Regions from separate parts of the Homo sapiens genome. Here regions 2 and 3 are each linked to region 1. Evidence: fine-mapped expression QTL. A gene starts in region 1. Each other region holds a variant in brackets. All regions are shown on one strand. Distances are between the middles of the regions. Region 1 holds the start of RSPH3 (radial spoke head 3). Region 2 overlaps RSPH3 (radial spoke head 3). Region 3 overlaps TAGAP-AS1 (TAGAP antisense RNA 1).

The links. PIP is the estimated chance that this variant, and not a neighbour inherited with it, causes the effect. A credible set is the group of variants that fine-mapping cannot tell apart.
Region 2: its variant is the best candidate, but not a certain one, in a credible set for the expression of RSPH3 in unexposed skin (GTEx, PIP 0.87).
Region 3: its variant is the best candidate, but not a certain one, in a credible set for the expression of RSPH3 in monocytes (TOPMed, PIP 0.56).

What each region holds. Positions count from the first base shown.
Region 1 is chr6:158,999,217-159,001,983 of GRCh38, reverse strand. It overlaps RSPH3 (radial spoke head 3), which reads left to right and starts at 1,782. Exons shown (of 8, transcript NM_031924.8): 1 at 1,782-2,549. The coding sequence starts at 2,434. TAGAP-AS1 (TAGAP antisense RNA 1) reads right to left here and starts at 2,111. Exons shown (of 5, transcript NR_183546.1): 1 at 1,592-2,111. RefSeq lists enhancers at 1,474-1,523, 1,096-2,067, 1,934-2,093, 2,264-2,333, 2,364-2,413 and 2 more.
Region 2 is chr6:158,977,179-158,979,945 of GRCh38, reverse strand. It overlaps RSPH3 (radial spoke head 3), which reads left to right. Exons shown (of 8, transcript NM_031924.8): 7 at 1,600-1,686; 8 at 2,098-2,767. The coding sequence ends at 2,408. Among named protein-coding and RNA genes, the nearest start is that of TAGAP-AS1, 21 kb to the left of the region's middle. The variant T/C (reference allele first, on the strand shown) is at 1,312.
Region 3 is chr6:159,030,504-159,033,270 of GRCh38, reverse strand. All of the region lies in intron 3 of TAGAP-AS1 (TAGAP antisense RNA 1), which reads right to left. Among named protein-coding and RNA genes, the nearest start is that of TAGAP, 13 kb to the left of the region's middle. The variant G/A (reference allele first, on the strand shown) is at 1,459.

The DNA of each region.
Region 1 (2,767 bases):
TGGCTCACGCCTGTAATCCCAACACTTTGGGAGGCTGAGGAGGGCGGATCACCAGGTCAAGAGAACAAGACCATCCTGGCCAACATGGTGAAACCCCGCCTCTACTAAAAATACAGAAATTAGCTGGACGGGGTGGCACACGCCTGTAGTCCCAGCTACTCAGGAGGCTGAGGCAGGAGAACCACTTGAACCGGGGAGGCGGAGGTTGCAGTGAGCCAAGATCGCGCCACTGCACTCCAGCCTGGCCACAGAGCGAGACTCCATCTAAAAAAAAAAAAAAAGAAAGAAACTTGTACAAGAACCTATAGTGGCTATCAATTTCTTTATAAAGCCCACTGTGGCTGGTATAGCACTATTGTTTACCCACTTAATACCCACTCAATTCTGCCCCAACATCCTCCTAACAGAATTTGTTCTCCTCCTCCCTGGCCAAGTGTTTCTTGGAGGCCTAGAAAGACCGGTTACCTGGTCTAATCCAAATATGGTGGTCTTATATAGATCCTAAGCTTAAATCAATATGATGTAATTCTGGTCAGTTGGGAGTTTACGAGGGGGTTTTGCTCTTCCAATAAAGACAAAAGAGCAGATACTTCTATTACTACTTTGTTGAAGCCAACAACCCAGGTGACAGAGTGGAAAGGTAGGGGAAAAAACGTGTTGTTGATAATGTGCTGAGCCCCCAAGTTACCCTCCAGGTTAACCAACCTGGGGAGTGTAAAATAATGAATTCCTTATTATTTCAGCCACTTGGAATTGGTTTTTTGTTACTTGAGGGAAAAAATATTCTAATTAATATGCTAGTGTTTACTGTTTCCACGATGTGGTGTCAGCCTGTCTATATATATTTCTACAACTCATCTACACAAACCTTGCTTACAGTTTTCCAAATGCACCTTGGGCTTCTTGAGCCTTTGATCAAGCCATTCCGAATGCACTTCCCCCAAGAGGCTGGCCAGTTAAAATACTATCATTTATCAAACACAACTTAAATGTCACTTTCTCCTCTAGCCCTTTCAGAAATTACCTCAAAATTAAATGATCAGACCTAAAATATGTTGGGAGTGTTTTCACCTCTAGAATTTACCATACACCTTTATGCTAGTGTTACTTATAGAATGCCTACATCTGCTTTAGGTCATACACTTCAAAGCACAGAACGGTCCAGATCTTAATATAAAGGCTTGCCATTTACCAGGCACAGCTCTAAGTATTAACGGTTTTAATCCTCAAGACAAAACCTAAAGAGATAAATTCTTCTATTGCCACTTTGTGGATTAGGAAAATGAAGCACAAAAACATTTAACTTGCCTGAGGTTTCGGAGCTAGTACATTCTAGAACCTGGATTCAAATCAAGACAGCAATTAGCTGAATGAAGGTGTAACTGCAAATGCAAATAACTGATCACAAGGGATACACATTCACTCATACAAGATAGAAGATTTTTAACGTTGCTGGTACTAAAACCAAAGCGTCTGCGTTTTTAAGCGCAGCCCCACCCCGCAATACTAGAGACATTCTTTAGAGCTGGAAGCCTGATAGATTAAGGGGAACTATGCCTTTGTATTTTTTAAGACTCAATAAATTGCTCACTTCTTTCCCAAAATGAGGTGTCTGTGGGGGAGGCCCCTGTCGCTCCGTGTGCCAAGGGTCCTCCGATTGCTAGCACACAGCGGTGAGCAGAGAAGGTAGGTGAGGAACTGCACTGACTCAGCTGCAGAGGGCGGCGGCAGCCCGCCCCTGGGGCGGGAGAAGGGCAGGAGCCGGGAGACACCAGGAAGCTCTTCCCCGCCCGGGCACGTAACAGAGCTGGGAGCCTGGCTGCCAGGGGCGTGTTATCGCGGGGGCAGCCTGGGAGCGCTGCTGCGCCGCGGCAGGAGAAACAGCCGAGGACACCCTGGAAGAGCAGGAGCACGTGGGCCTGCGAGAATGGCGCCAACACCAGCCCTGCAAAGCCACATTCCAAAGCCGGGCCAAGGACAGCCACCGTTGCCCCGCAGGCCTCAAGGATGACGGTCAAGCCAGCCAAGGCCGCCTCCCTAGCCAGGAACCTCGCAAAGCGCAGGCGCACCTACCTGGGTGGCGCGGCTGGGCGGAGTCAAGAGCCGGAAGTCCCTTGTGCCGCAGTCCTTCCCGGGAAACCTGGGGACCGGAACTGCCCGGAGTTCCCGCCCCCAGACAGAACCCTGGGTTGCTGGGCAACCGATGCGGCCCCCGCAGCTGGTCTCTGTGGTGCTGGGAGCGAGCCCAGTATAGCTCCCACCTCCTGCGCTGGTAACCTCCCGTCCCGCCCGCCTCCCTTGTTGTCGCCTCTCCTCGCGTCGCGGAATCCTTGCCCTTGGCACTACTTACATCTCTCCGGGTCCCACAACACCTTAGCGCCCACCTGCTTCAAAGCCAAGCTCCACCGAAAGCGAGGCAGTCAGCCCCCGGACATGGCCTCAGCGCTGACTGATCGCACCTCTCGGGCCCCGAGCACCTACACCTACACCAGCCGGCCCCGAGCACTGCCCTGCCAGCGCAGCCGTTACCGGGACAGCCTGACGCAGCCGTGAGTGACCAAGCCAGCCCCTGTGTGGTCCATACTTGCACCCCATCCCCAGGCCGGGGTCTGGCCCCTTCGCCCTGGCAAAAAAGCTGCTTATGCTGTCTTCCCTTGGCTGCACTCTGCCGAAATAAAAGTTCTGCCCTAAGGAATCTCCCGTGGTGTGGAGGAGTGAAGCAGGAAGGGGCATGGGTTGGGCATCAGTTAACTTTTAGTGATATGAG
Region 2 (2,767 bases), 22 kb after region 1:
AAGAAGGATCCCTGATCTCTGCCACTAGGGAGCCCATAGCCTGATAGCTGTCTGTCTGTATCCCCTCAAAGTCCACGTTCCTAGCTGCTCAGCCAGTGGAAAGGAAGAGTTGCATGTCCTCACCACCACCCACCTTCCTCAGAGTGAAAAGCACTTACATCCACCGTGCTTGGTGTATAGGTCCTATTTTGTTGGCCAGTAGTATCTTGGGACACATGTTAGTAATGATAATTTTCACTGATTACATATTCAATTCAATACAAAGAGGTCAGATCACAGACAAATATTATTAATATACATAGTATTTTTCATAGGTGATATCATTTGATACTCTCAATAACCCTGTAGGATAGACAGGTCAGATAGAATTCCCATTTTTTCAGAAATAGAAACTGAAGCTCAGAGAAGTTAAATGCCTTGCTCCCAAATCCTCAGGCAGTGGAAATATTAGGCCTCAAACTGACTTGGAACTCAGACTCCAAGTCCAGTGTTCATTCTCGGCTATCATCCTGCTGTCCTGGGCTCTAGCTTGGACTCTAACTGTTAGCCAGAGAGACCAGTAGCCTTTTTTCTATCACAGATTACCAAAAAAGTAAGTTATAGATCATTTAAAAGCTTGCAAATGAAATTCATACCTGAGATAAAAATTATTTATAGTAGTGAATATAATATTCTATCACTCTCCATTTCATCCTATTGAAAAATAAAATTAGATGCCTGCCCCAAAAAATGCTATTTTGAAACTTTAAAATGTATATTGTAATAGACCATATTTTTAAAATGCTTACACAGTAGATTTCAGTTTGAACAAACTTGATACTGATGGAAACACCTAGTTTCTGACCTATTTCTAGATGACTGCCTCCTCAAATGCCCTCTCACTGCATTCTCTGAGTCTGATCAGCTTCCTTCCATTAGGCCCTGGGCTTCAGGTGGAGACTTTCTTTTACTGGCATTGCTCAATCCCAGATTTGCATTGCATTTGGATTGGAGTTCTCCCAAACCCACATCCTCCCCCTGCCTCCCTGATCCATCTCAGATTGCACCTATGAAGGAAACTCCAAATGCCTTGACTCCAAGGAAGGCCTCATAGTTCTTAAAATATTGGGCAAGGTGTGGTGGCTCACACCTGTAATCCTAGAACTTTGGGAGGCCGAGGCGGGTGAATCACGATGTCAGGAGATTGAGACCATCCTGGCCAACATGGTGAAACCCTGTCTCTACTAAAAATACAAAAATTAGCCAGGTGTGGTGGCGTGTGCCTGTCGTCCCAGCTACTCAGAAGGCTGAGGCAGGAGAACCACTTGAACC[T/C]GGGAAGCGGAGGTTGCAGTGAGCAGAGATCGCGCCACCGCACTCCAGCCTGGGCAACAGAGTAAACCTCTGTCTCAAAAAAAATAAAAAAATAAAAATAAAAAATCACTTATGCAACAGAAAGGAAACTGACCAGAACATATATAAGGAATATGGCAAAAGTTATGCTGTATGAGTCTACTTAACATTTTATATTAAGAAACCAATGTTGATGAGTCTATTACATTAAGAGAAAAGCGCATTATTCCTCTGATAATACATGAAAATCAATGAATTCTTTTATTACAGATATTGAGATAGGATTTCTTCCATGGCTAATGAATGAAGTTGAAAAAACCATGGAATATAGCATGGTGGGAAGAACAGTGCTTGACAGTAAGTTATTTTATCCAAAAATTCATCTCTAAAGTTTTTAGTAGAAAGAATAAATTGAATAACTGAAAGAAAGATTAATTTTACAGTTTGAATATTTAAACTTTTAGTATATCAATTGTATTAATAAAAGTGCAAATTTTTACCCTCAATATTATTTTTGGCTCTTCTATAATTTGCTATCTATTAATATCTTCTGCCATTACTTTATAAATGATACTCTGTGAAAACAGAATATATTTTATATTTAATGCATTAAGTGTGAAGTATGCTGACTTCCAAAAAAGGTTATGACATAGGAAAGAGATGAGGCTTCGTGAAGGTTTTTGTAATCATCTATAAGTGAGCATTATAACTCCTGAAATATACCATAATATGAAAATCATAGTGATGTCTGAACATTTAACTTTTCAGTGTTGATCCGTGAGGTGGTTGAAAAGAGGCTGTGTATGTATGAGCATGGGGAAGACACACATCAGTCTCCAGAACCCGAGGATGAGCCTGGTGGTCCTGGAGCAATGACAGAGTCACTGGAGGCCTCTGAATTCCTGGAGCAGAGCATGTCACAGACACGGGAGCTGCTTTTAGATGGAGGCTACCTACAAAGAACAACATATGACAGAAGGTCATCCCAGGAAAGGAAGTTTATGGAAGAGAGAGAACTCTTAGGGCAAGATGAAGAAACAGCAATGAGGAAGTCCTTAGGGGAGGAAGAATTGTCATAGGAGGGAAGCTTCAAAGTCATGAAACCAATCAACAGCCAAGTCAGCAAGCAATCAGGTAATGATGTGCGAGTCCCCTCAGGTTATAGAAATTATGTTGTATTTAGTCAGTATGTCTTTTTGTGTAATGGACTGGGCCAATCAAATGTGATAAAATTAATTTGAGAATGAAACTTAAATTGAATTCATTTATTTAATAGAATATTCAAAGGCTATATTGTAATTCTAATGAGAATTATATTTAATTACTAGCTTTCTATTACCATTATATGTAACCAGCAAATATATTTTTCCTTAGCCCTTCTAATTTTGCGGGTTAGTTTTTTTTAGTAAGTATGATATTTAATGTTCAATATCAGTGC
Region 3 (2,767 bases), 31 kb before region 1:
AGATGGCCTCCTCCCTGTGTCTCTTCACATTATCTTCCCTCTACGTGAGTCTGTCTCCAAATTTCCCCTTCTTCTAAGGACACCAGTTATACTGGATTAGGACACAACCTAATGACCTCATTTTACCTCTGTAAAGACCCTCTCTCCAAATATAGTCACATTCTGAGATGTTGGGGATTAGGACTTCAACATATGAATTTGGATAGGGCAAGACACAATTCAACCCATAACACCAAGTTTTTCAAAATACTACTTAATGATACCTTGAATATGCCAATAATTTGAATATTTCACCATAACCAGAGAGCTAGGGCTTCTAGTGAGATTTAGATGACAATAAAATGATGCTTTAGTCAAGGATCCAGGAACACCAGAGTTCTGTCCTCTATTGACTTCCTAAGGGCCCACACTAATGACAAATGGGACAATCACAGATGTACCTGATGCAAAGTGTATAGTAAAACCGGGTTGGAAGCCTAATTAGGAGCTCAAACTTAAATTCAGGTCTGATTCCCTGGGAGATGCTCTCTCCTCCGGTAAAGAGGGGGAGAGGTGGATGACCCATGATACACGGATTATCTGTGCTGACACACTGTGCACCATGCCCCCAACCCACACACCAGCACTACTGAGGACTGAAAGAAATTAAAACTTGTTTCAGAAATGTTGACTTGTGTTAGGTGCTTTTGCAGGAGCTTAGCAAAACTAAGATTGCACCAGAACTTGAACGCAACAAATACAACACCTGTGTTACACTGGGGTCCCTAGGAAGTTGAAGTCGCAGCTATGGTTTTTAGCGCTAACAAAACAAATGACAGTTAATGGCCATAGCACATCCTATGGCCATAGATAGAATGTGCAAAGAGCTACAAACACTGTTTATCCTTAGGTTTATCCTAAATTAAAAGTATACATTGATAGATAAATTCTTCTGATCATGATCTCACTGGAAAAATCGCCAATACATGCTTCTCTCTTGAAAGGTCAGACAGAAACTCACATCGGATGCGATCTTACATGTTTCCAGTTTCTTTTTTAATTAAATTATGTAATCTTAACTCTTCCTCTGCAAAAAGAGAATTACTGAGGAATCAGAGGTATAAACGTTTTGCTAGAATTGGAAGTGAATCACTTTTTAGCAATATTTTAAATGTGGACTGAACTTCTGCATTATGTTCACTCCAGAGTAAAAATTAAATGTAAATGAGGAAAAACAAATGGGATGAAGTTCTTCCTCCTACTACAGGCTACAAAGAGGGGGGCATTGTGAAACAAGCAAACTTGCAGAATGCAAAATCTGGCCAGAAATAGGAAATGCAGAATGTTAACATCTCCGTGGAAAAAGAAAGACAACGTGTTGACACAGAATGAATATACGACCCAAATTCACAGAACCTGAGTCTGTGAATACCCCGAAATCTGCTCCCATGCACAGGGCACTAAACCTGTCTGAGCTCC[G/A]GTTTCTCCATCTATCAGATGAGGGTAATGATAACTTGCATCAGTTACGGAACGCATGTAACAGAAAACCCAGACAACAGACGCTTAACCAAGAAGGAGGTTTGTGCGCTCTATGAAAAGAACAGACTGGCAGCCCAGGGCTGGGATGAAGGCTCATGGCCTCCTCCGGCCCCGGGTTCCTTCATACTCAGAGCCAGTTGCATGGGGCTATGACCTGTGGACCCAATGCTAGGGTAATTCTCTGCTATTGGCATTTTTAGAGTATTAATAATTGAGAACAGGAGCCTTGCATTTCCACTTTGCACTGGGCCCTGCAAATTATGTAGCCAGTCTTGTGCACAACTTCAACTTTCTAGTCTACCATCCTTTCTGGGAACATGATCCTCTTCCCCCAACCTTTCCCTCCAGATCCCAAGCAGGAACTTTCTGCTCAATAACCTCTACCTCCATCCCAGAGGCCAGAACTTAGTACGTGGCTTCTCTTTTTTTTTTTTTTTTTTTTTTTTTTTTTTGAGACGGAGTCTCACTCTGTTGCCCAAGCTGGAGTGCAGTGGCACGATCTCGGCTCACTGCAACCTCTGCCTCCTGGGTTCAAGCCATTCTCCTGCCTCAGCCTCCCAAGTAGTTGGAAGTACAGGCGCATGCCACCACACCTAGCTAATTTTTTGTATTTTAGTAGAGACGGGGTTTCACCGTGTTGCCCAGGCTGGTCACGAACTCCTGAGCTCAGGCAATCTGCCTGCCTCGGCCTCCCAAAGAGCTGGGATTACAGGCGTGAGCCACCGCACTCGGCCAGTACGTGGCTACTCTTACCAGCAGAGGAACCTAAGAATACAGTTTTTATAGCCAATTGCCTCTCCCAGCAAAATCAGTAAGAAATTAGGAGATGGATACTGCAAGGCCTTGACACAAAAGTCAAATAAAAGAGATCGTAGGTACAACGAAACAAATCCAAATTTAGTTGCTCAATGATTAAAAAGGCAGGATAAAGTAGACTATCTACTTAATATGAGACCATTGAAAATGTTCCATATGATTAGGAATAATAAAAAGATAAGGTAGATAACAGTCTCAAGAGTATTTCAATTATTTGTATGCTCACTGTGAGAATTTTACAATTATACAACAGTAGTTTTAAGCAAAATAAATTAGTAACAAATATTGGCCTCCTACAATATAAAAATATTGCATTTGTATAAGGAATTTACAATCTAGTAGAGAAATAAGACACCTTTGACAGCAAAGGTAAGTTCCAAGTGAGTGATAATAACACAAAATACATAGTAGAAATGAATGGCTGCTTCATGGT